Homo sapiens: one gene and its partners. The protein of the gene in region 5 purifies or fractionates together with the protein of the main gene of each other region. This does not show direct contact. Each region holds a gene or a part of one and is shown on either strand. Other genes may lie near its edges.

What was found.
Region 1: the proteins of NEIL1 (region 5) and WDR12 purify together in Homo sapiens (affinity purification with mass spectrometry; one large-scale study listed by BioGRID and IntAct). This does not show direct contact.
Region 2: the proteins of NEIL1 (region 5) and MYBBP1A purify together in Homo sapiens (affinity purification with mass spectrometry; one large-scale study listed by BioGRID and IntAct). This does not show direct contact.
Region 3: the proteins of NEIL1 (region 5) and POP1 purify together in Homo sapiens (affinity purification with mass spectrometry; one large-scale study listed by BioGRID and IntAct). This does not show direct contact.
Region 4: the proteins of NEIL1 (region 5) and GTPBP10 purify together in Homo sapiens (affinity purification with mass spectrometry; one large-scale study listed by BioGRID and IntAct). This does not show direct contact.
Region 6: the proteins of NEIL1 (region 5) and UPF1 purify together in Homo sapiens (affinity purification with mass spectrometry; one large-scale study listed by BioGRID and IntAct). This does not show direct contact.
Region 7: the proteins of NEIL1 (region 5) and ANKHD1 purify together in Homo sapiens (affinity purification with mass spectrometry, with the first as the bait; one large-scale study listed by BioGRID). This does not show direct contact.

Annotation. Positions count from the first base shown.
Region 1 is NC_000002.12:202,894,674-202,898,173, forward strand, and holds part of WDR12 (ribosome biogenesis protein WDR12), read right to left. Parts: intron 2,743-3,500; coding exon 2,627-2,742; intron 1,547-2,626; coding exon 1,392-1,546; intron 1-1,391.
Region 2 is NC_000017.11:4,545,385-4,548,884, reverse strand, and holds part of MYBBP1A (myb-binding protein 1A), read left to right. Parts: intron 1-235; coding exon 236-361; intron 362-574; coding exon 575-742; intron 743-827; coding exon 828-927; intron 928-2,942; coding exon 2,943-3,039; intron 3,040-3,123; coding exon 3,124-3,275; intron 3,276-3,500. UniProt on the Homo sapiens protein: May activate or repress transcription via interactions with sequence specific DNA-binding proteins. Repression may be mediated at least in part by histone deacetylase activity (HDAC activity).
Region 3 is NC_000008.11:98,127,293-98,130,792, forward strand, and holds part of POP1 (ribonucleases P/MRP protein subunit POP1), read left to right. Parts: intron 1-302; coding exon 303-470; intron 471-1,072; coding exon 1,073-1,248; intron 1,249-2,685; coding exon 2,686-2,934; intron 2,935-3,500. UniProt on the Homo sapiens protein: Component of ribonuclease P, a ribonucleoprotein complex that generates mature tRNA molecules by cleaving their 5'-ends. Also a component of the MRP ribonuclease complex, which cleaves pre-rRNA sequences.
Region 4 is NC_000007.14:90,353,216-90,356,715, forward strand, and holds part of GTPBP10 (GTP-binding protein 10), read left to right. Parts: intron 1-1,242; coding exon 1,243-1,334; intron 1,335-1,870; coding exon 1,871-2,015; intron 2,016-2,491; exon of another isoform or gene 2,492-3,500. UniProt on the Homo sapiens protein: May be involved in the ribosome maturation process. Complements an ObgE(CgtA) function in E.coli ribosome maturation. Plays a role of GTPase in vitro. When missing, disorganization of the nucleolar architecture is observed.
Region 5 is NC_000015.10:75,353,539-75,357,038, reverse strand, and holds part of NEIL1 (endonuclease 8-like 1), read right to left. Parts: intron 3,429-3,500; exon of another isoform or gene 3,354-3,428; intron 3,301-3,353; coding exon 3,173-3,300; intron 2,790-3,172; coding exon 2,762-2,789; intron 2,609-2,761; coding exon 2,547-2,608; intron 2,387-2,546; coding exon 2,221-2,386; intron 2,076-2,220; coding exon 2,005-2,075; 3' UTR 1,134-2,004; coding exon of another isoform or gene 1,007-1,133; 3' UTR 930-1,006; coding exon of another isoform or gene 820-929; 3' UTR 739-819; coding exon of another isoform or gene 590-738; 3' UTR 434-589; coding exon of another isoform or gene 354-433; 3' UTR 247-353; coding exon of another isoform or gene 137-246; 3' UTR 1-136. Other genes in the region: MAN2C1 (alpha-mannosidase 2C1), read left to right, coding at 137-246, 354-433, 590-738, 820-929, 1,007-1,133. UniProt on the Homo sapiens protein: Involved in base excision repair of DNA damaged by oxidation or by mutagenic agents. Acts as a DNA glycosylase that recognizes and removes damaged bases.
Region 6 is NC_000019.10:18,855,959-18,859,458, reverse strand, and holds part of UPF1 (regulator of nonsense transcripts 1), read right to left. Parts: coding exon 3,370-3,500; intron 3,274-3,369; coding exon 3,159-3,273; intron 2,583-3,158; coding exon 2,439-2,582; intron 2,140-2,438; coding exon 1,926-2,139; intron 1-1,925. UniProt on the Homo sapiens protein: RNA-dependent helicase required for nonsense-mediated decay (NMD) of aberrant mRNAs containing premature stop codons and modulates the expression level of normal mRNAs.
Region 7 is NC_000005.10:140,502,833-140,506,332, forward strand, and holds part of ANKHD1 (ankyrin repeat and KH domain-containing protein 1), read left to right. Parts: intron 1-1,988; coding exon 1,989-2,134; intron 2,135-2,289; coding exon 2,290-2,401; intron 2,402-2,891; coding exon 2,892-3,037; intron 3,038-3,500. Other genes in the region: ANKHD1-EIF4EBP3 protein, read left to right, coding at 1,989-2,134, 2,290-2,401, 2,892-3,037. UniProt on the Homo sapiens protein: May play a role as a scaffolding protein that may be associated with the abnormal phenotype of leukemia cells. Isoform 2 may possess an antiapoptotic effect and protect cells during normal cell survival through its regulation of caspases.

The DNA of each region.
Region 1 (3,500 bases), on a different chromosome or scaffold from region 5:
ATTATTTGCCTACAACAGTAGGTCTCTTCCTCATTCAGGACCTTTTCAAAGAACTTGTGTTCCACAGAACTGAAATTAGCCTTTTTCCAGGGGCAGATAGGACAGAACATAAAATCTGGGAAATCTTGAAGGCCAAGCTTATTGCCATGTCTTTTGAAGAAAGCCAATCTGAAGTGAGAGAGAATAAAGTCAACTTGAGGGACAAGACAGCGAGAGGGTGTGCGGACCACATTCAAGCCTCTATTCCACTGGTTCCTGAGGCCCAAATGCACCATTACCCTTCTTGTGATGTGGTTGTTCAATCTTTCCTTGGATCTCACAATCCATTTACTTTTAAGGTTAAATAAGTTCAAGTTGAGTTTCTATCTCTCCTTAACCAAAAAGAAGAGGTACAGTTAATCCACTAAAGTTTGGACTAAACAACATATAAAACTTTTCGGCTCAATATGAAAAATCATAAATCTTCACCTTTGAATACAAGCATCCTGTTACCCTAACTGTCAAAGAAACACTCTTAAGTCCAGAATACTTCAATGTGGCTTAGGAAACTTTCAAATTCTAAGTGGATTTATAACCCTTCATATTAATAAATCAATATGGTATTGCCCTCAGGTTTGTTACCTTTTAACTAACTTTTACCATTTTGTCATGATAAAGAGTAGATTGATACTATAGTAAAACTCTATTAGCACTAACTTTAGTGTATGCTAATGCTCAGACTATCAACTAGGCGTTTTCAGTTGATGACAGCACTTAAGAGTAGCTGATATAGACTGGAAATATGTCAATTACTATGAGGTAAGAAGGTTATATAAATGAATGGCTTGTTTACTTCATTTCTTTCTTTTTTTTTTTTTTTTTTTTTGAGACTGAGTTTCACTCTTGTTGGGCCCAGGCTGGAGTGCAACGGTGCAATCTCGGTCACTGCAACCTCTGTCTCCCGGGTTCAAGTGATTCTCCTACCTCAGCCTCCCGAGTAGCTGGGATTACAGGCATGCGCCACCATGCCCGGCTTATTTTTTTTTTTTTTTTTTTTAGTAGAGACAGGGTTTCTCCATGTGGGTCAGGCTGGTCTTGAACTCCTGACCTCAGGTGATCTGCCCGCCTCGGCCTCCCAAAGTGCTGGGATTACAGGCGTGAGCCACCGCGCCCGGCCCATACCTCATTTCTTAAAATTTCTGGAGTTTATATAAGGTTCTAAACCAGGGATTCAAACTGAGCAAGTGACTATCTCCTATTGTATGAGTATTTACTCTTGCTTTGAAATCCTATCTTTTGTCACCGATTGTTAGGAAACTAGGCCAACACAATGAATATATGCAGAAGAAAATGTTTAGCAACAAGCTCAAATTCAAATTTAACAGAGTACTAATAATATTCTAGCTACTTACTTTAGTTCCTGAGCCATCAACAGCTATAGAATCTACACTTCCAGCATGACCTCTACAGCAGTGTAGGGCTTTCACTTTGTTTCTCTCTACATTCCACTCCCATAAGAGAATAGTCTGATCCATAGAAGCACTCAATAATAAGCAGGACAAACTATCTGGAGAAAGGAGAACACAAGAATAAGAAACAAATCAGTATACCATTTAGAATACATCATGTTCTGAAACCAAAGAACTAAATTTTTTTGTTGTTATTGAAAAAGATGTTAAAAAGATAACTCATATGGCCAGGTTTTAAAAGGCTGATGTGGTATAAAGAAAAGATTCTTCAAAAATAGATGACGATGACTGGGTGTGGTGGCTCACGCCTGTAAATACTGACATTTTGGGAGGCCAACACAGGCAGATCACTTGAGGTCAGGAGTTTGAGACCAGCCTGGCCAACATGGCAAAACCCTGCCTCTACTAAAAATATAAAAATTAGCCGGGTGTGGTGGCAGGCGCCTGTAATTGCAGCCACTCAGGAGGCTGAGGCAGGAGAATCACTTGAACTCAGGAGGTGGAAGTTGCAGTGAGTTGAGATGGAGCCACTACACTCTAGCCTGGGCGACAGAGTGAGACTCTGCCTCAAAAAACAAACAAACAGGCTGGGTGCAGTGGCTCACGCCTGTAATCCCAGCACTTTGGGAGGCCAAGGCGGGTGGATCATGATGTCAGGAGTTCGAGATCAGCCTGGCCAAGATGGTGAAACCCCGTCTCTACTAAAAATACAAAAATTAGCCAGGCGTGATGGTAGGTGCCTGTAGTCCCAGCTACTCGAGAGGCTGAGGCAGGAGAATCGCTTGAACCTGGGAAGTGGATGTTGCAGTGAGCCGAGATCATGCCACTGCACGCTAGCCTGGGTGACACAGCGAGACTATCTCAAAAACAAAACAAAACAAAACAAAACAAAACAAACAAACAAAAACAGAAGAAAATAAAAGATGAATGTAATACATTCAATATTAACTTGAAAATGTATATTATCTGATGTAATTTTAATAAAGATACACTTCTAACAATTTATGAATTTTTTATATAATCTTTTTCTTCTTGAACACTGTATTTTTTGAAAGACCTCATAATAACTGAGGTATGAGATACTTCCCACCCACTCCCCATTCTTCCCCAGCACCAAAAATGGCTTATTTCCAAATCCCTATCTAGGATTCCTCTAAGTGTAGGCAAACTGTCCTAACCTTTTTTCACCCAGGCCACATCTTTTACAACATCCGTATGTCCCACAATTGTCATTATTGACTTTCCTTCCAAGGACCAGATCCGAGAAGTCTTATCATAAGAACCAGTCAAGATCCTATGAGAAAAAAAAATCTTATGAAACACAAAAAGCAGTTTTTCCAAACCCTGAAATGTTTCTTTGGCAATGACAAAGTAACTTTGAGGATTATACTTTTAAACTCTTTTTTGATATGAAGATTGAGATTTCAAGCCATACTAGATCAGATCACTTGACGTTTCTCAACCTCCTAAAAATAATACCTGGCATGGCTGGGCGTGGTGGCTCACGCCTGTAATCCCAGCACTTTGGGAGGCTGAGGCAGGCGGATCACGAGGTCAGGAGATCGAGACCATTCTGGCTAACACAGTGAAACCCTGTCTCTACTAAAAATACAAAAAATTAGCCAGGCATGGTGGCGGGTGCCTGTAGTCTCAGCTACTCAGGAGGCTGGGGCAGGAGAATGGCGTGAACCCAGGAGGCAGAGCTTGCAGTGAGCCGAGATTGCGCCACTGCACACCAGCCTGGGTGACAGAGCGAGACTCCGTTTCAAAAAAAAAAAAAAAAAAAAATATATATATATATATAAAAAATATATATCATATATATACATAGTATAAAATTACTTTCAGGCTAGGTGTATAAGCTGTATATGAAACATAAATGAATTTCATGTTTAGACTTGGATCACATCCCTAAAATATTTCACTATGTATATGTTAATATTCCAAAACCACCCCCACCCAAAAAAAATCCTACATCCAAAATACTTCTGGTACCAAACATTTCCAGATAAGGAATACCCAACCTGTAGTACTCTTTTTTCTTTTTGAGAT
Region 2 (3,500 bases), on a different chromosome or scaffold from region 5:
CTCGGGTTAACCCGCGTTCAGCTGGGGATCCAGAGCAGAGAAACGGCCCCTTCCCATCCTAGCCCAGCCCAGCCCCCTCCAGCCTTGCCCGTCAGGCCCCCGAGGACTGTACCCAGGGCAGAAGGGCGGCTCCTCCTCCTCCTGGCCTTGTACCCTCGGTGGTACCATCCAAGGAGGGGAGCCTGTAAAAACCAATGGCAGTGAATGGCTATGGCCACTCTCCCACCCTCCCCAGGTTTTGTTTGTTCCACTCGTTCTTTGTCACAAAGAAGCCCACATCCCAGATCCCTGAGACAAAGCACCCGTTCTCCTTCCCTTTGGAAAACCAGGCCCGAGAGGCTGTCAGCAGTGCCTTCTTCAGGTGAGTCTTGGGCAGCCCAGGAGAGGTCCGAAGGTGGGAAGGCCTTGAGGGCGCCTGCTCCCTCCAGGTCCCCTAAGCTGGGAACAACGGCAGAGGCCCCCGGAGTTCTAGTAGGTCCTGGAGAGGCGGGAGACCGAGCCCTGGGGAGGGCGGAGGGAGGCGGCTACATTGACTCATCTGGTCTGCTGACCCCAAGCCCCATCCCTTGCCCAGTCTGTTGCAGACCCTCAGCACGCAGTTCAAGCAGGCACCGGGCCAGACCCAGGGTGGGCAGCCCTGGACCTACCACCTGGTGCAGTTCGCAGACCTCCTGTTGAATCACAGCCACAACGTGACCACCGTGACACCCTTCACTGCGCAGCAGCGCCAGGCCTGGGACCGGTGAGCACGTGGGATTTCCAGGGGGTGGGCAGGACGCTGCAGTCTGACTGGTGCAGGGGCCTGGGAATCGCCTGTCTCCCCGCAGGATGCTGCAGACTCTGAAGGAGCTGGAGGCCCACTCCGCAGAGGCCAGGGCTGCTGCCTTCCAGCACCTTCTGCTCCTCGTGGGCATCCACCTCCTCAAGGTACTGGGGCCTGGGAGGGAGGGGCTGTGAGCCTGGGGTTCTATGGCACAATGGGCCCCCTACCGAGAGGCTTTTGAGGGCTGTGCGGGTTTCCAGGAAAGGTTCTGGGGGAGTTAAGTTGGGAGGTTTTTGAAGCCAACTTTGTCACAGGTGGAAACATCCCTCCGGCCACTTAGCGGCACCAGCTGGTGTCCTAGGCTTTCCATGCAGGATCTCGTAATCCCCACAGCTTTGAGGCAGACACCCCCTCTCCATGTTTGACATGGAGAAACTAAGACTCAGAGGCAAAGGAGCTTGCACTGTACCCCCTGCTGTGGGAACACCTTCTGGCAACGGGCTCTCCCGCTCGGTTCTTCCCATCAAGAAGCCCTGACCACATTCGAGGCTCAGTACCCTGATTTCTTTTGAGTTTTCTTCTCATGACATAAGCTGCTCTTATTGGGGCTGCTTTAGGTCTTCTGTAGCCTGAGTAGGTGGGTCTCTTGCTTGCTCCCGTCTGGCCACTTGACTGTGGTTGCCTTACTTGCCAGCTTTGGTTATTCTGAGCCCAGCATGTGGATGAGCTGTTTGGGGAAAGGTTGGCCACGATGCCCCTTCCAATTCTTGACGTCAGGCCTTTGATAGCAGCAGAGTCCTGGTGATTCCAGGACACATGTGGAGCCTGCCCCCAGCCTTGGGATCTCCGAACTTGACTTGGACAGAGGAGGCTGCAGTTTGCTGTGTCAGAGCCTTAGATAAAAGGTGCAGCCCTGGCCAGGCTCGGGGCTCGCACCTGTAATCCCAGTACTTCCGGAGACCAAGGCAGGTGATCACGAGGTCAGGAGTTCAAGACCAGCCTGGCCAACAGAGTGAAACCCCTTCTCTACTAAAATACAAAAATTAGCCAGGTGTGGTGGCAGGTGCCTGTAATCCCAGCTACTCAGGAGGGTGAAGCAGGAGAATTGCTTAAACCTGGGAGGCGGAGGTTGCAGTGAGTTGAGATGACACCACTGTACTCCAGCCTGGGCAACAGAACAAGATTCTGTCTTAGAAAAAAAAAAAAAAAGGTGCAGCCCAGAGGAGGACGGGGACCTGCTTGGGCACACAGCCTGGGAGCCGGAGAGCAATGACAAGGGCTTTGGGCTGCTTTGTCCCACCCTGGCCTAAACGTTCAAGCTGCCGACTGCATTATGAGGGGAAAGTCTGCTTTTTAGGTACCAAAGATCACACAGTTTTCAAGAGCTCCTGCACACGCACATGCGCACACCACGCCACCTCACTCGAGTCTGGGGTTATCCCCAGTCAGATGAGTTCAATGTAATTAAATTAGTTAAAACTAATGACTTTCAATTCTGTCTCTCATGCCAAGCCAAGCATGGAGGGAATAATCTAGAATTATGAATTGGGGGCTGGGGCTTGCTGGCTTCTCTGGGACCCTGACCATCCTTGTCAGGTTCTGCCTTTCTTGAGTGTCCAAGGGGGAGTTGGACTCCTTGTCCCCTTCAGGCTTTTGGATCCTGTAACTGCGTATTAGGTGTGAAAAAGCCGTCAGCTAGCTGGGCGCGGGGGCTCACACCTGCAATCCCAGCACTTTGGGAGGCCAAGGGGGGCAAGGGGGTGGATCACGAGGTCAGGAGTTCAAGACCAGCCTGGCCAACATGGTGAAACCCCGTCTCTACTCAAAATACAAAAATTAGCCGGGCATGGTGGTACACGCCTGCAATCCCAGCTACTTGGGAGGCTGAGGCAGGAGAATGGCTTGAACCTGGGAGGCAGAAGTTGTGGTGAGCCGAGATCAGACCACTGTACTCCAGCCTGGGCAATAGAGCGAGACTCCATCTCAAAAGCCCTCAGCTCTTGGGGTGTCCAGCTGGGGTCTTCTGTTCTGGATTGTGGGGGTGACTGGCCAGGGCGGGCCAGTGGCTGGGTGTTGGAGGCTTCTTGATGCCACTGCTGCCATTTGGCCAGCCCCTTGCCTGGTTTAGAAGGGCTGGGGACAGGGCCTGGCCCCAGTGTGTGTCCTACCCTGCCCGCAGTCCCCTGCAGAGAGCTGTGACCTGCTGGGTGACATCCAGACCTGCATCAGGAAAAGTCTGGGAGAGAAGCCCCGCCGGAGCCGCACCAAGACCATCGGTGGGTCCTTGGTCACGAGAGGGACTAGAGTGGTGGGGTGGGGCCAGCGGTCCCCTATCCGGGCTCAACCCCTCCCTCTTGCAGACCCCCAGGAACCCCCGTGGGTAGAGGTGCTGGTGGAGATCTTGCTGGCCCTGTTGGCCCAGCCCAGCCACCTCATGCGCCAGGTGGCCCGGAGCGTGTTTGGCCACATCTGCTCCCACCTGACCCCGCGTGCCCTGCAGCTAATTCTGGATGTGAGTTGGGACCTTTGGGAGTGGAATGTGGGCTGGGGCTCACTGAGCAGCGAGCTGCACCAGGGGTGCCGCTTCAGCCTCCAGCCTCCCTGCCGGGAGCCTGCGGCCGGTGGGAGGGGTCTCAACGAGGCCTTGGCCTGGCCTGGCCGCCTCTCCTAGGCTCCGTTTTCTTCTGGGAAATGGAGGTCTTTGGTCAAGGCTGAGTGGGGCCTGGAGAGGAGGGCG
Region 3 (3,500 bases), on a different chromosome or scaffold from region 5:
TTGAAATTCATGTTGCACCGTTTATAGGAGAAAATTTCACCTGTATCTGTTATATCCAAGGTCCTTTATATGTCATCCTGACATGATTACCTTGTGTGCTACCTACTAGCTTTGTGACCTCGAGCAAGTTAATTCACCTTCCTACGTAAGATTCCTCTTTAAAAATAAGTAGTAATAGCCACCTTACAGGGTGACTATAGGATTAAAAACATGGTCAATGTTGCCACCCAACAAATATTAGTTCTCCACTATAATGTTTATCTCTGATAAAGGTGACATGTTTCTTTTTGAAAATATACTAGAGCCTCATCCTGGAACTTCACGACAGCGGCAAACCAGAGTCAACCCCCATTCTCTGCCTGACCCTGAAGTGAATGAGCAGTCTTCCTCCAAAGGGATGTTTAGAAAAAAGGGAGGATGGAAAGCAGGTCCCGAGGGCACGTCTCAGGAGATCCCCAAGTATATAACTGGTGGGTACTCATAAAGAGGTGCAGTTTGCTTGTATTTTGAACTCTCGTGTCTAGTGCAGCAACAAACTGCCCTCCTTGTGGTCCTGGCTCTGCCTCCCCTACCTCTCCTCTCCTCCTCCTACTTTAGACCCTTCTCGCCTCTAGCCTGGACTTTGGCCAGAGCTTCCTTGGGCTTGATGGCTCTCCCTTCTTCAGTTTCTCTCCCTGTCTCTTACTCTTCTTCTTACAAGTCTTTGTGAACTGTTCCTCTTTGTCTTAGCCCCCGTGCCCCTCTTGTTTTAAATATGCCATCCACACTCAGCACAGCATTCTCCAAGGATGGAAAATTGAGTACACACAAATGGCAACCAAACCTTTATTTAAAGGGCCTGTCTCCAGGCCCTTTCCATCCTCTTCTGTTCTTCACCCTATGATCCCCATCCACACTACCACAATTAAACCCTATATTCCTTGTACCTTGTACCTATACCTTAGATATGCTTTCTGGTCTCTCTTTACGCCTTCTTGGTGGAGGAATTCAGTTAAGTTTCCCCAGCAGCCTGTTTATTCTCCAATGTTAATTCAAGATTGGTGTTTAATGACTTTGTCATCTCCTTCAACAGCTTCTACTTTTGCTCAAGCACGAGCTGCTGAAATCAGTGCTATGTTAAAAGCTGTGACCCAGAAGTCTTCGAATTCACTGGTTTTTCAGACTCTGCCACGGCACATGCGACGAAGAGCCATGAGCCACAACGTCAAACGCCTTCCCAGACGGTTACAGGAGATTGCCCAGAAAGAGGTAGGAGTTCCACTTAGTGTAAATGTTTAGATTAGTAGCTCCTAGAAGAAATTGAGAAGTATTGACCTAATAGAATTTATTAAAAATGAAAACCAAGGCTGGGCATGGTGGCTCACGCCTGTAATCTCAGCACTTTGAGAGGCTGAGGTGGTCAGATTGCTTGAGCCCAGGAGTTCAAGACCAGCCTGGGCAATATGGCCTAACCTTGTCTCTACAAAAAAATCCGCAAATTAGCTGGGCGTGATGGTACATGTGTGCCTGTAGTCCCAGCTACTTGGAAACTGAGATGGGAGGGTACCCTGAGCCAGGGGAGGTTGAGGCTGCAATGAGCTGTGATCATGCTACTGTACTCCAGCCTGGGTGACAGTGAGACCTTGTCTAAAAAGAAAAAAAAAACTCAGAAAACATCACCCTTATGGTTTTTGTTTTTGTTTTGCATATATTTGATTTAATCATTATCCAAACTTCTTCCCTTCAAACGAAATTCACAGGCAATTGGCTATTATGGGTGCTTTGAAATATAGGATTTGATACTCCTCTCTTGTAAGGGTGTTGAATAGTTGATGTTCCCTTCCCAGATGTTAAAAAAAAACTCTGACCCTCTTACCGAGTGGTTTTGGATCTGTGTTTCTAGGGTGTGCCCAGCTTGGGGTAGGAAGGTTAAAAAAAAGCAATGTCAATGCTTAGCATTTGCTTTCTGACTTTTTCGAAGTTGAAAACTTGAACTGGGTTTTAATTTTTGTACAAGTCTAATTGTGTTTTGGCTTCACCAGAATTCTAGACTTGAACATTCTAAGATTAAGCCCATGTCTTTACTAATTGGTTTAAAACCTATTTATTGAGCAGCCTTCTATGTACCATTGCTATGCTGGTGGTGGGGTTTGAGTTCAAGAGGGAAAACTAACAAGGAATTTTATACTTTCTAGATTTAATATAAAATCTGTTTCCCAGTGATAGCATTCAGCATGTGTATGTCTGTAGCTTAACTGAGATGAAATGTATGGGTTTTCCTCACTTGTATTATTTTTGGTCTTAAGTTTTTGGTTTTAGTTACAATTCTACAGGTTAAAATGACAACAAGAAGCTAGCATTTGATTTCTTCTTTCTTGCCCTCTAATACTAATAGCCATATTAAGCTTGTGTTACTGTGTTGAACATTTTATAAGTATTCTGATCTTCATATTCCATGAAACTTGCCTAGTTAGTGAGTGATGGAACTGTGCCTCCTTCCTAGGTCTCCTAGCTCTAAAACATTCACTCTTTCCATTGTCTTCCTTCTCTACTTACATTGAAGAAACTAAGTTAACAATTTAAGCAAACTAATGGGATCTATAAAATATTCCACTTAATCTAAAGTTATTTGTTTGCATTCCTGACCGTTAACTCTGTTTTGAGATTCTTACAAACTGGGATATGTCCCTCTACTTGAAACTATAGGCGGAGAAAGCCGTACATCAGAAAAAAGAACATTCAAAAAATAAATGCCATAAAGCTCGAAGATGTCACATGAACCGGACGCTAGAATTTAACCGTAGACAAAAGAAGAACATTTGGTTAGAAACTCACATCTGGCACGCCAAGCGGTTTCATATGGTCAAGAAGTGGGGCTACTGCCTTGGGGAGAGGCCAACAGTCAAGAGCCACAGAGCCTGCTATCGAGCCATGACGAACCGGTGCCTCCTGCAGGTGAGCTTTTCCAGTGGGCTTTTTTTGTTATTTTTGTTTGATCCTTTTCCATAGAGGCCTTTAGAATAGTTTATGATGTGCCAAGCCCCGTTTATGTGATTATTCATTTTAAAAATAATTCCTGAGCATGAAGCCCGGGTCCTTTGCCAGATGCTGGAGATCAGGCAGCCTAAAGTTAGGGGGGTGACTGACATTAATCAAACGATTTACCAGATATGTGGTTGTAAGGGAAAAGCATACAGTATGATGAGCATTTCTAACCTAACTGGAAGGCGTCCCCCAGAAGTGCTGTTTGAGCTGAGCTCTAAGGGATAAGATGGGAGGAGAGGGGGAAGGCAGAAGGAAGCCAGGTGAGAGTGAAGAACTGGAATCAATTCTGTGTGACAGAGAAGAAGAGAAGGAGAACAAGGCAACATCAGGGCAAGGTTAGCCTAGAGAAAAGAGTAGGAACCAGGTCGTGCAGGTCTTGTTGATCATGTCAAGTTTTATTCACTATAGATTAATCTAACAGTCGTTCATCAATAACAGATATTTGAGAATCAACTGTGTACCCTGAACAGGGTTCA
Region 4 (3,500 bases), on a different chromosome or scaffold from region 5:
TTCCCAATGTCTATCTGTATTCTTTTTGCACTTCCCCTGTAGAAACCGATAATTATCTGAATTCCCACTGTTTTCTTCTAAAATTATCTTTGACAACCTTTTAGAAAACTTTCAGTCTTAACCATGCTACTCTACCCCACCACCATTAGAAGGCAAGATAACCACTATTAACCTTTTCTTGACTTTTCTAAGACTTTTCTGTGTGTTTACACAAATGCAATTATGTGCCTAAAAGTTTAGAATACAAAAATGAGAGTACAGTATTTTACAATCTGCTATTTTTACTTTTTTTCACATGTCAAAATTATTCAGAATACCTGCATAATAAATAACTATTTTGTCATTTGTCTATTTAGGTTATTGTTGATTTTTTTTTCCGATTATAACCACAGTGCAGCATTCTGTGTAGATACTATTTTACATGTTTGTTCAATTATTATTTTGATAAATTCCCAGAAGTAGAATTACTAAAACATTTGTACTAATTTTTTCTTTTATGAGCAGTTTAAGAGTAGCCAGATTTGCCTTCTATAATGTAAGTACTCTCATTTGAGGTTAGTTTTTTAAAAGCTTTGCTATTTGGTGGATTTTCTTTTTTTTTTTATAGATTCATTTTTTCTTTTTTTTTTGAGACAGAGTCTCATTCTGTTGCCTAGGTTGAGTGTAGTGGGCACTATCATAGCTCACTGCAGCCTCTACCTTTCAGGCTGAAGTGATCCTCCCACCTCTGCCTCCCAAGTAGCTGAGACTACGGGTATGTGCCACCATGCCCAGCTAATTTTTAAATTTTTCTTTTTTTGTAGAAATGGGGTCGTGCTATGGTGTTCAGGCTTGTCTTGAACTCCTGGACTCAAGAGATCCTCCTGCCTCCGCCTCCCAAAGTGCTGAGATTACAGGCGTGAGCCACCACGCCTGGCTTTTTCTACCCTATTTGTATTGTAGCAATAATCTCTTCATTTCATGGTTGCAATATTTTAGTTTCGGGTTAAAATGACCTTTGGTGGTTAGCTTAGTAACTTAAATCATTACTTAATGCCATTTTAGTGGGATATAATAGTCTAAAATGCAAAGAAATAATTAGGGATAATTTTAGTTTTTTTAAACCCCGTGTTTGACCATTTAACATCTGCGTTAACCAGAGAATTGATTGCTACTCTTCTTTGTAAACCATTTTGTGTGTATGTGTGTGTGTGTATATATACACACACACATACATACATATATATACTTTTTTTTTGGTAGAATTAGTGCACTGAAAGGCTCCAAAGGAAAAGACTGTGAAATCCCTGTGCCTGTGGGTATTTCAGTAACTGATGAAAATGGTAAAATTATAGGTGAGTGTACTATAACTCCAAAAGTTGTAAAAATGTGCACGTTTTCTAAAATGAAACAATGGAATAGCTTCTCTTGAGTTTCAGAAGATTTTTTAACTAACAATTTTAGCTACTATTCTATAAGAGAGCATTTTTAAAACTTATAAAAGTTAAATTGACTGCTAGATTTAAGATTGTTTTAAAGATGTTACAGTTCTTACTTGGTCTTAAAATATATAACTAGGCTCTTTTCAATTGTTTACTGAAGTGTTTTTCTGGGGTCAAACTTTTAATAGATTTGTAAATTGGAATTTCCTGGACTGTTTTTCTGAAAGAACAATATTACATTAATGATTCTACTTATTAATTATAGATTTGTAATTGAGAATTTCCTGGCATGTATTTTTGAAAGTAAAATATTACATTAATGATTTCACTTACTAATCTATAGATTTGTAATTTTGCATTTCTTTGCCTGTATTTCTGAAAGAAATATATTGCATTAGTGATTTCACTTATTAATCTTTGCTGTAAGTATTTCTCTCCCTCTTTTTAAGGAGAACTCAATAAAGAAAATGACAGAATTTTGGTAGCTCAAGGAGGTCTTGGTGGTAAATTACTTACAAATTTCTTACCATTGAAAGGCCAGAAACGAATAATTCACCTTGATCTAAAACTTATAGCTGATGTAGGCCTAGTAGGGTAAGTATCGTTCATATTTTTATTATTATACTTTCAGAGAGAGAGTTCTTGAATAGAAAATAAATGTAAATGGTAATTTGGGGCCATAATTATTTCTAATTTATGGAATTTGTGTGTTGTGTATGTACTTGGAAAATATGCTGCTAAATATTATTTTCAAATTGCCAACACAGAGTTTCATAGTTATTGCTTATTTATAAAATTAAGACCAGAGCAATTGAATAGATCAGTGGGAATGTTAGAGAATGCATAAAGAAAGAAAAATCAATCAAATGCAATATTACAAGATGGTTAAATAATGTTACCAGATATTAATAATAAATCCAAACAAACCGTATTATTATTAAAAATATATAGAAGGAAATAAACAGGGAAAAATGGTTGACATAACTCTTTTGGGTCTTAATAGAGACATTAAAGTATCGTTAATCAAATGGCTAAAGACCAGTACAGACAATCTCAATCCTCAGACTTACGCACTGTTGCCGCCAAATTGAATCCTGCTATGACTGTATATCCTTCTTGCCTCTGCTTAGGATCTATCTAGTCTCAGCAATGTAGGCCTCACAAGAGTGTCCTCTTCCACCAGCCTCCATTCTTTCATTAAATAATGCTGTTTAGCTGTGGGGTTTGCAGTGCAGCTGCCCACTGGAAGGGGATAGATAGTAAGATACAGAATACATAAAGGAAGAGAAAACTTCAATTTGCATTTGCTCTCTCTCCCCCATCCCCCCTCCCTCCTATCCTCTCCCTCTGGCCCTATCACAGTATTACACAGTTATTCAGATGGAAAGCTTAAGGACAAGATAAGGAAAACTGCCTTATTACTGTCCTACTCCAAATTCCTAGTTCTATTTTTTGCTTCCCCATAGCTTCTTTCTAAGTTCTTTTCATGTTCCTCTTCAGTCATCTCACTGCTTCTTTACCAGACTCTTAAGTCTGTATCCCTCGTCTTTTGCCCTGCCTGACCAGCCACTAGAGCTTACCACCATTGGTTTAGGGTTCACAGAGGCCCCATTCCTGCTAAAATTATAACAAGGAAAGATGTGATCCTGGCTTGCCATTTACATTTATTTTTTTCAATAAAGCACAGTTACAAGAGTTATTAGATGTAAGTTCTATAATCCTCTATATTTTTAGGAACATTATGGGCTTAATAGGGTCTTATGGACAAGACTGGCAGTCCAGCCAATCACAGTTGCATTTTGCATAAACATGTGTTTCAAGTTCTGAAGAGACAACTTTACAGTCTAAGAGGAGCCTAGCACGGCTTAGTCATAAAAGTGGAGTGGCATGGAGGACTCAGGTTAGACTATTTAGGTTAGGATCTCAAATCCTCTGGAGGCTGGCCAGCTGGTCTTGGGTAAATTACACAGCCTCTCTAAGCCTTTGTTTTCTCTTCTTTTTTTCTTTTCTTTTCTCTCATTCTTCCTTCACTATAGTTTTTTGCTTTTCACCACGTCATTTGTTTTCTCATCTTTAATA
Region 5 (3,500 bases):
GGCCCCGTACAGTGGGAGCTGGAGTTCAGTTGTGTGGTTCTAGAGCTTGTGCTCGGCCTAGTGACAGGAGCTCTGGAGTCTGGGAGCACAAAGAGGGGCACAGGGCCACCAAGTGGGTCTTGGATCTGCCCTCCAGGTGTGGGCCCATCGCTGGATGGATCTGTCAGAACACGGCTTTGGGCTGGCCCTGCTCAACGACTGCAAGTATGGCGCGTCAGTGCGAGGCAGCATCCTCAGCCTCTCGCTGTAAGTGGGGTACCCACCAGGCCTGGGAGCTGGCATGGAGAAATGGGTCTTCCCGACCACAACTCCAACAGCTTCAGCGTGGCCCCTACGCGCCCTCCTCACCCCAGCTTGCGGGCGCCTAAAGCCCCGGACGCTACTGCTGACACGGGGCGCCACGAGTTCACCTATGCACTGATGCCGCACAAGGGTGAGTGCTGGGGACGGTGGGGCCTTCCTGCAGCCCTAGACACCTCTCTGCCCTTCCCTGAGCCCAAACCCCAGCAACCTGGCTTCCTGCCCCTTCTAGGGACAGGGGAGGGTAGCCCCCATTCTCCACCAGCATTGTTTCCTGGTCGTACCCCAGGCTCTTTCCAGGATGCTGGCGTTATCCAAGCTGCCTACAGCCTAAACTTCCCCCTGTTGGCTCTGCCAGCCCCCAGCCCAGCGCCCGCCACCTCCTGGAGTGCGTTTTCCGTGTCTTCACCCGCGGTCGTATTGGAGACCGTCAAGCAGGCAAGGGGTGGGACGTGCTGGGGACGGGGTTCCGAACTGGGCCTGCCCTCGGCCCCTCCCACCAGACGTGTTCCTCTGCAGGCGGAGAGCAGCCCCCAGCGCCGCTCGCTGGTCCTGAGGCTGTATGAGGCCCACGGCAGCCACGTGGACTGCTGGCTGCACTTGTCGCTGCCGGTTCAGGAGGCCATCCTGTGAGTGGCGGTGTGGGATTGGGGCGGGGGTCGAGTCTCGCCCTCGCAGAGCCTTCATGGCCCCTCCTGTTCTCCAGCTGCGATCTCTTGGAGCGACCAGACCCTGCTGGCCACTTGACCCTTCGGGACAACCGCCTGAAGCTCACCTTTTCTCCCTTCCAAGTGCTGTCCCTGTTGCTCGTGCTTCAGCCTCCGCCACACTGAGTCCCTGGGGCTGGGGTTTTGTTTGTAGAAGGCTCTGGGGACTCCTAATTTCTGCTTCCCCAGCCTAAAGCAGGGATCAGTCTTTTCTTGTGGAATAAATCCTTGGATCGGGAACCCTGCTGCTCAGTCCCCTTAGGGCCCATCCTCACGCTTGGGGTGGGGGTGGGAAGTCTGGGGTGGGATGGCTTCCCAGGTATTTGGTGGGTAGGGGCAAGATCCTAAGGTACCTGTGCGTGCAGGGTCTGGGTTGCAGCCCCCACAGGAGAGACTGGGGACCTCGAGCCACCAAAAGCCAGTGAAGAGACCATGAGTTGAGAAGCCCCTCCCCTGTGCCAGCAGGTAAAGGGCCTGGGCCTGGGGCTGGGGAGGGGCCGAAGGGTGGGTTTTGCCTGGCTCCTGCCAGGATGAGGGGGCAGCCCTGGACCCTGGAGAATCTGGACTGGAGGAGCTCTGGCTCCTGGGCTGCCTGGGGCCAGGGTCTTTGTACCACCTCTGAGGGGCTGTCCTTGCAGAGGCAAACTGTCCTCTGATAGAGTCAGAGCCTTGAGGACTGGGATGGGGGCTCAGTTTGCCTTGTGAGGAGCTGGGCCTTCTGTCACCAGGACCGGACAGCAGGCCCTTCCTACCTGGCCATCTCAGACCAAGAGGTGCCAAGAAGTTCAAATGTATCAGTTTATTAAAAATGCAGCATTTTTCACATGAGCTTTAAAGATGTGGAAGATGGGGTACAATTAAAACCATGAGAGTTGTGCAGGGAACAGCCGTAGGGCCTGTTTGCACCTTCAGATATTGCCTGCTCCCAAAAATTCAGACCCCCAGATGCAGGGCAAGACAATAAGAAAGGGTGAGTGCAAGCAAGGAGAGCCTCCTGCTAAGAGGCTGAGGTCCCCTCTGGTTCCAAGGATGGGATGTCAGCCTTGACCTTCCGGGGTCTGCAGTGGCCTGGGGGAAGAACAGGCAAGATGGTCAGCTAAGACTCCAGGGGCTGCCATGGCAGCCTTTCTCCCACCTTTGTACACGCGCTCCTAGGCCACCATCCCATCCTCTCCTGTAGAGCCAGTTTCTGGGAGTGATGAGGAAAGCCCACCAGAGGCTGCCTGTCGCCCCTTCCTCCTCCCCTTCTTGGGCACTGTGGGAGCTTCTGGGTCCTGCTGGAGGCTGGTCCCCTCAGGCCGCTGGGTTGCAGTCCTCTTAGGAAGGTCTCTCTTTGCCCTTCGTGTCCTGGAAGGGGCCTTGCTTGGAGGCAAAGCGTCCTGGATGGAGGAGACACGGGTCCCTGAGGGGCTCAGAAAGCAGTTCAGAGGTTGGTTAGGGCCCACCACTCCCCCCGCCCTCTTAGGGTAAGGCAGCTGCCTGGGAGGGGCAGCCAGGGCTGCAGAGTGCAGGGGAGGAGGCGGGAGCAGGCAGCCATACCTCCACTCTGTCCTCAGGACTCAGCTGTGTGGCCTTGGATTTCTTTTTGCGGGACTTGCGCCCTGCAGGACACTGGTGTTGGAGTTGGAGGGTCCTATCCTGCCCAGGGGTGACTCCCAGGGTTGCAGGGGGATAGGGTGGAGAAGGGTGCTGTAGCCCTTGCAGGCGTGAAGTCCTTTCTGCTCTCTTAGCCTATTACATTAGGAGTAGCTTACCTTTGGGTGCCAACGGTCCAGGATCCCCCTAAAATGGGATGGGGATAATTCAGGAATCAGCCTGGGTTGGCACAGGGGCGGTATTCCTTGGAGAGGCAGGACTCACACACACCCATCCAGATCAGTGTAGCTTCTCCCTTAGGAAGCCTCTAGGACATCCCCCATGTTAGAGTCCACATCAGCAAAGCTGCTCTGCCCTTGGCTACTTTCACTTGGGCTACCTGCCTTGGGCTACTTCCACTAGCTGCAACCCTGGGACGCATGGGAGGGGAGGGGTGTGACCCTCAGGAACAGTGTGGTCCTTGGAGGGTCTAGACAGACCCTGAGCATCACCACCCCAGTTATTGTGACCCCACGTTTCCACCCATCAGCCTCCTGGGGTCTCTGCCTGTGTGAACAGTAGGGCCCAACCTGGAACCAGATGGTACGGCCATGCCGGTCCTGCAGGGAGCTCATGCCTGGCATGCCATAGCAGCGCAGCCAGGCTCGAAAGGCAGCAAAGTCCTCCTCCCCGCTCTCTGACCCGTAGCCTTTGCCCCCTGTGGGACAGAGGAACAGGCAGAGATCAGAGGGCAGGCTCAGGTTGGGAGGAGTGGGGAGCCTGGTTAGACCTGGCCCAGACCTCAGCTACACAAGCTGATGGACTGAGTCAGGGGCCACACTCTCCCTCCTCTGGTGATGTGACCTCAGCTGGTTTCTTCCCACTCGGCCATGGGTTTCCCATCCTGGAGTGGGATTA
Region 6 (3,500 bases), on a different chromosome or scaffold from region 5:
CCTGCAGGGATGAGGCGGCTTCTCACAGCTGGTCAGGTGGTTCTGGGTTCAGGTGCTGGCTATCCAAATATGCTCACTTAGTAACCACTCATTGAGCCAGACACTTGTAATGTGGCCACATGTTTACACTTCAATAGAGAATTTCCTAAAATGTACTTCCTGGGTGTGAACTACGTGCTGTGCATCAATTAGAGAGCAGTGTGCACCAGCGTCTGCCCTCTGGGCCGATGCCCTGGGGACCATGAGGGGTCTGAGCCTGCGCCGAGCCACGCCTTTCCCAGCCAGTGCTCAGACACCCCAGAGCACAAGCTAGGTCTCTGTGGCCTTGTGTTTTCAGCCTTGCCATGCGCTGGGAACAGCGGTGTCCCTGCGATGTCAATAGTGGCATCAACTCCCAAGACCTACCGCTAGGCAAAGAGTGGTGTGGCCCAACCCGGGGGGTGGGCTCTGAGCCTCACTTTCTCCTGTAACTAGGCCTGACAATACCAACCTCACAGGTTTGGAGTTCATGAGGCGCTGTGTCGGCAGCTTTCAGGACCCTTTACACTCTCAAAAGTTAGGGAGTCCAAACAGCTTTTGTTTATTGGATAACTGTATTCTCTAAACTTGGAAATTTAAAAAATATATTAATTCATTTAAAAATAACCCATTACGTGTTAGTTATTTCTCCAAAAATAAGCTAAGTAAGAAGAGTGGTCCTGTCTCCCATTTCTGCAAATCTCCTTACTATCTGGCTGAATCGGAGGCAGCTGGGCCCTGGGGTCCACCTCTGCTCAGTCCACCCTCCTGGGCTCTGGGGACGCTGTGGGGAAGCCAGGCCTCATGGATGCCTGAGGCTGGAAAGGGAGATGGGTTTGTTTTTACAGCCTTTCTGCATGGCTGGGAGTCTCCAGCCCTGAGGCCACATCAAGCTGGACAAAGGTGGGTTTCTGCAGGCCTGTGACAACTCTTTGCCACTCCATCCCCATGTGACTTCGTGACACTCTGCTGGTCATTCAGGAAGGATCTCCCACCGAGTCAAGTAGGTCTTCCAAAGGCTGACACATTTCACTGGCAATGGTGGAAACATTCCATCTGTCACCCCCACAGACCTCACCAGAAAAGTCTCTAGGTGTTGGGAAGACACCAAGCTCATGGCAAGCGACGTTAAGTTTTCCAAAATTCTGGTTTTCACTTGAATTTTACTACTGTAACAGATGTTGCCACTAGTTCTCCATGAAGCGACAGGTTCGATCATTTTTGGAAAAAGTCTGCCCAACACCTTGGGGTGAATACCCAGGGTGTGTCCACAAGGACTTCCTTCAAGCGCCGGCATACCCAAAGGTGTCACGAGAAATTTTATCTGGTCACAGTGAAACACTCGAGGCTTAGTAAGATGTACTGTTCACTTCCTCATCCAGGGCGTTTCTTACTGTGATCCGGGCACAGTCTGGCTGCTCTGGGCTGACTCTTGCAGAAGCACCAGGGGGTCACCAGCAGTGTGAGCGTCAGCAGAGTGAAAAAGGGCAGGTGAGGCCTCTGTGTTATCCAGGGAAGCCGGACACGGTCTTGCGGGCCCCAGGGGCCCAGGCCCTGAGAACAGCTGTTCTTCATGAAGCACTGAATGCACAGCCCACGTTAAGGCCCGGGCTCAGCTCCCCTAACAGCCTGTCCTGGCTGCTGTGCATGCTGCCACATGAGGCTTGGATGAATTCTCAGGCAATGACTGAGTTTTACAGAGGACACAGGCTCCCCACATGCCCCAGAGACACCACTTGATCCAAGACCATACCATCAAGACCTTGGGCACAAAGTGCCCTGACCTCAAGCAGTGGCTATGTGAAGCCGCTCAGGGGAAGCTGATGGGCCAGTTCCTTCTCCCCAGTCCACATTCCCTTGATGCCGCTTCTCTGTAGAAGCCCCTGCCCTGGGCAGAGCCCCGTTACCTGCAGTGACACCATTCTGGAGGGAGCCCTCGTAGAAGATGTTGGATGGGAAGGCGCTGAGTGCAGGGTGCATCCGGTACTGGACCTGCAGGCGGATGGGCCGGATGCCCAGCACCACCAGGCGCTCGAAGAGCGACTGTGACAGCCCGGCCTTGGCCGCCTTCTTGCACATCACCACTGGGCCCAGCTGGCAGTGGTCGCCTACAAGGATCAGCTGTAGGAACAGGGGCCCCCACAAGTCAAGAAGCTCAGGTGTGAATCAGCCTCAACACACACTAGCAAGGAAGTAGGGGCCCCAGGATGCACAGGACACCACCTGGCCACAGGGGCATTGCTCACCACGCACACTGGACGTGCAGCTGGCAGAACCCACCCTCTATAAACCCCTCAGGGAGCCCCCAGTGTGCGCACACTCTGCTGGGCATCCTACGTCAATACAAGGTGTTTTAAAAGACAAACACCAAGAATCACACACACGAGTTTTCACACAGGAGGGCAGGGGAGGCAGCCCACCTGCTTGGCCCCGAGGACCACGGGAACCATGCACTCCGGCTCGGTGGCCTGGGTGCTTTCGTCGATTAAAATGGAGCGGAACTGCATCTTGGCCAGCCTCGGGTCACCGGCGCCCACACATGTGCAGCAGATGACATCTGCGTTCTGGGGAAGGGTGCAGAGGCATCAGGGCACCTGCACTGTAAACGCCACCAGACCCCGGAGGGCAGGTGGGACAGAACACAGAAGCTCTCCTGTTTCTCACCCTCCCTGACACTATAAAAAACAAGCTGTCCCTCCCAGACAAGATACATGGTCCAGGCTGTGGTGATTACAAACTTTTAAGATCCTTAAACGGTCATGTTTCACAGAAGGCAACCTCTCCACACCAAGAGCTCTGCGCCTCACGACAGCCTCCAAGGGGCAGTGCTGAGCTGCTGGAACCTGCACTCAGGCTGATTCCAGTTCAGGCTGGTTGGTTATGAAAGAGCAGGAGTGTTCTAGATCCACTGCCGGATCCCAGTGGAGGCTGGCAGGGAGTGGAGACTCCCTAGAAGACCGTGTTCCAGGCAGCGAGATGTCCCTAATTTACTGTACAACTGAGCGCAGAGAGGCCAAGTAGAGAGCATCTAAGTTCTCTTTCCAGAAGCAAAGCAACAATTCAAATAGGTGCTTTGGCCCAAACAAAAACCATCAGGCCGCCAGCCCACAGGCCCTTTTGCAGGCAGGAGGGGCACTCACCATCAGCAGCTCTCTCTCTGCGGTGCGCTTCAAGGCCCGGTACCGCTTCTCGTCGGCAGACGACAGCTCCCCAGTCTCGTCTTTCAGCTGCTGCAGCTTCTGCAGCTCAGGCATGCTGGAAGCACATGCAGGTCAGCAGGGTGCCTGAGTTCTGTACATGTCACCCGCAGAAGCTCAGGGACCAACTGGGAGGGATGGACTCGACACACACCTGTCCATGTTCCTGATCTGGTTGTGCAGGGCCAGAAAAGACACCGGGGAGTCGATGGCCTCACGGCTCTTGGCGCAGAGGCGCACGACCTTTAGCCCCGTCTGGTGGATCTTCTCCGTTAGCTGGTCCAC
Region 7 (3,500 bases), on a different chromosome or scaffold from region 5:
CATTTTGCATATTCTTATAGGTGAAACAAACATATGTAATAATTATTCCTATTTGTAACTAAATAGTTAAATTATGTTATTTATGTGATGACAGAAGCTGGAGAAATTTGTATTGCCAAGATGGTTATATATGTTGGTGGGGATGAGCTGGGTAGCTCATGTAGAAATATATCTGGGCATCTTAAACTTTGCTCACTTATTTAAACTAGTAATCTACTAAACTGAGTCATTCACACTTACGAATAGTATCTTTGAATGGGATCTAGTCATATCAAAAATTCTAGAGAGAAAATATTTTCCAACACTTAAAATGCTTACATTTTTCTTTAAGTCCTACGTGTTTTTGACTGACTTTTAATCTGGGTGCAAATGTAAGGTTATTGCCATCACTGATGCTTTGTTGATTTTTTTGTATATTATTACTGATTATATGTTTTTTTCTGAGTTTTTCCTTTCTTGAGTGAATAATGTTTTTATTTTTCAATACAATGAATAATAGTATTGACAATCCTATAAAATATCTGATAGTTACATCTATTGAGCACCCACCATTTGCTAAAAACACTGTGTTAAATGCTTTATATACAGTATCTCTTAGACTACTCACAACATCCCTGAGATAGGTCCTGTTTCCCCCCGTGGTCAAACTCCATCTCTTAAGAAACATAAGAAATTTTCAGAGATATAAAATACATAATTTCTTTTAACTCAGTTTTCTTTCTTTTTTTTTTTTTTTTTTTTTTTTTTTTTTTTGAGATGGAGTCTCACTCTGTTGCCCATGCTGGAGTGCAGTGGTGCGATCCTAGCTCACTGCAACCTCCGCCTCCCAGGTTAAAGCGATTCTCCTGGCTCAGCCTCCCGAGTAGCTGGGCTTACAGGCGCGTTCCACCACTCCCAGCTAACTTTGTGTTTTTAGTAGAGACGGGGTTTTGCCATGGTAGCCAGGCTGGTCCTGAACTCCCAACCCTCCTGACCTGAGGTGATCTGCCCACCTCAGCCTCCCAAAGTGCCAGGATTATAGGCGTGAGCCATCGCTCCTGGACTTAACTCAGTTTTCAAACCACATTTTGAGATCTCAAATAGAACTTCAATGTTCATTTTAAAAATAGTTGGACTTTCAGATACTGATTTTTTAACAAAGTTTCAAAATAAATATTGAATTTAGGAAACACATACTCCCTGCTATTTATGTGAGAAATACTTGAACTTGTCTCCCTCCCCTCCCCCACCCTTTTTTTTAGATGTAGTCTAGCTCTGTCACCCAGGCTGGAGGGCAGTGGCGTGATCTCAGCTCACTGCAGCCTCCACCTGGGTTCAAGCAATTCTTCTGCCTCAGCCTCCCAAGTAGCTGGGATTACAGGCATGTACCACCACACCTGGCTAACTTTCTGTTTTTTTTAGTAGAGATGGGGTTTCACCATGTTGGCCAGGCTGGTCTCAAACTCCTGACCTCAGGTGATTCACCCGCCTCGGCCTCCCAAAGTGCTGGGATTACAGGCGTGGGCCACTGCGCCCAGCCCCCTTTTTTTGAATTGTACACAGGATATTTTTATCTAATTGACTTTTTTACAAACTAAAATCTAGAATTCCTTTTATTTACTTTTATTTTTGGAAATTTTTTTTCCTCCCTGTTGGCAATGCAAAAAGCTACTATTTAATGTATGTGCACTAAATATCAGGTGCTGTGTTAAGTATTTTATCTGCATTGCCTCAGTGGTCTTTCCAATAACCTTCCAAGGCAGGTACCATTATTTTCGCCATTCTACATATAGGGAAAATTGAAGCTCAGAGAAGTTAAATTACTTGCCCAAGATCAGAAAGTCAGTGTTGGAACTAATATTTAAATGTAGGTCTGTCTGATTCCAAAGCTTGTGATTTTACTATTACTACATATTACTGCTATGGAAATTTCTGTTTTTGTGTTTTTCTATGTACAAATAACCTTACTCTTTTAAGTGGAATTTAGCAATATGAATATTGTTTTTCAGCTGTGAGTACCAGAGTGCCCACTGGTTCCAACAGTTCTTCTCAGACCACAGAGTGTCTTACACCTGAATCCTGTTCGCAGACTACAAGCAATGTGGCTTCCCAATCGATGCCTCCTGTGTATCCTTCAGTTGACATTGATGCACATGTGAGTAGATTGCTTTATTTAAACTTATTTTGCACATTCTGATCTTCTTTGGAAAGGAAAATTATTCTGCATTTATTGTGAAAAGAAATATTATTTGCTCTTAAATTGATAACTTCTGTTAAAAAAAATTTTAACTTATTTTTTTCTTCTCCTAGACTGAGAGCAATCATGACACAGCATTAACACTAGCTTGTGCAGGTGGTCATGAAGAACTTGTATCTGTGCTCATTGCACGGGATGCCAAAATTGAACACAGAGACAAAAAAGGTAAATATCAGTCAGAAATAAAATCCAAGTGTAGTTACATCAGAAAATAATTAACTTTTTTATTATTGATAAATAGTTCCTAGACTATCTCAGTGATAAGATGGATAAGTATATTTCAGTTAGGAATATCTGGATTCATTATTCTGCGGAGCCAAATAATTCTCAAAACATTCAAAAATTAGACGTAGATCATTAGTGAAATAGAGCAAGTTGTGGTTGCCTTTGTTAATCCAAAGGTAGTTCATACAGAGGCATCAAAGTTCATTATGAGTATAAACTTTAATAATTTTTACCGACTTAGTTTTTTAATTAGGTGTTTATGGGTTTTTTGTCACTAACAAATTAGGGTTTAGAGCAGTTTTATGTTAACTCATTATCAGTGTCTGCCCTGAAGGATTTATTTTGCTAAAATACTAGAGAATTGTAAACAGTGGCTTTAAAATAAAATAAAAAACATAAATTTGTTTAAGATTTTCATTTTCTGATTTAGGTTTCACACCACTAATCCTGGCAGCAACAGCAGGGCATGTTGGAGTTGTTGAAATCCTTTTGGATAAAGGTGGAGATATAGAAGCACAGTCTGAACGAACTAAGGATACTCCGCTTTCATTGGCATGTTCTGGTGGACGTCAGGAGGTGTGTTAATGTTAATTTTCATTTTGTAAATATTTTGCTTGTATTTTAAAATATGCATATGATTCGTATTTTAGCTACATGAATAAAATTTGCATGTATTTTGTGTGTTTGTTTTTCTGAGGCAGGGTCTTGCTCTGTCTCCCAGGCTAGAGTACAGTGGTGCAATTACAGCTCGCTATAACCTTGAACTCTGGGGCTCAAGCAATCCTCAGCCTCCCAAGTAGCTAGGGCTGTTTTGTAGAGATGGGGTCATGTAATGTTGCCCTGGCCGATTTCAAACTCCTGGCCTCAAGCAATCCTCTCTCCTCGGCCTCCCAAAGTACAGGGATTATAGTTATGGGCCAGCATGCCTGGCCCTGCACGTATTTTAACATGTTCCATATACTTTCTGAGGAATGGGTACTTCTGTTAACTTTTATGGGAATGTAAATGCCCTTTTTTTTTGGCGGGGGTTTGTGGAGGG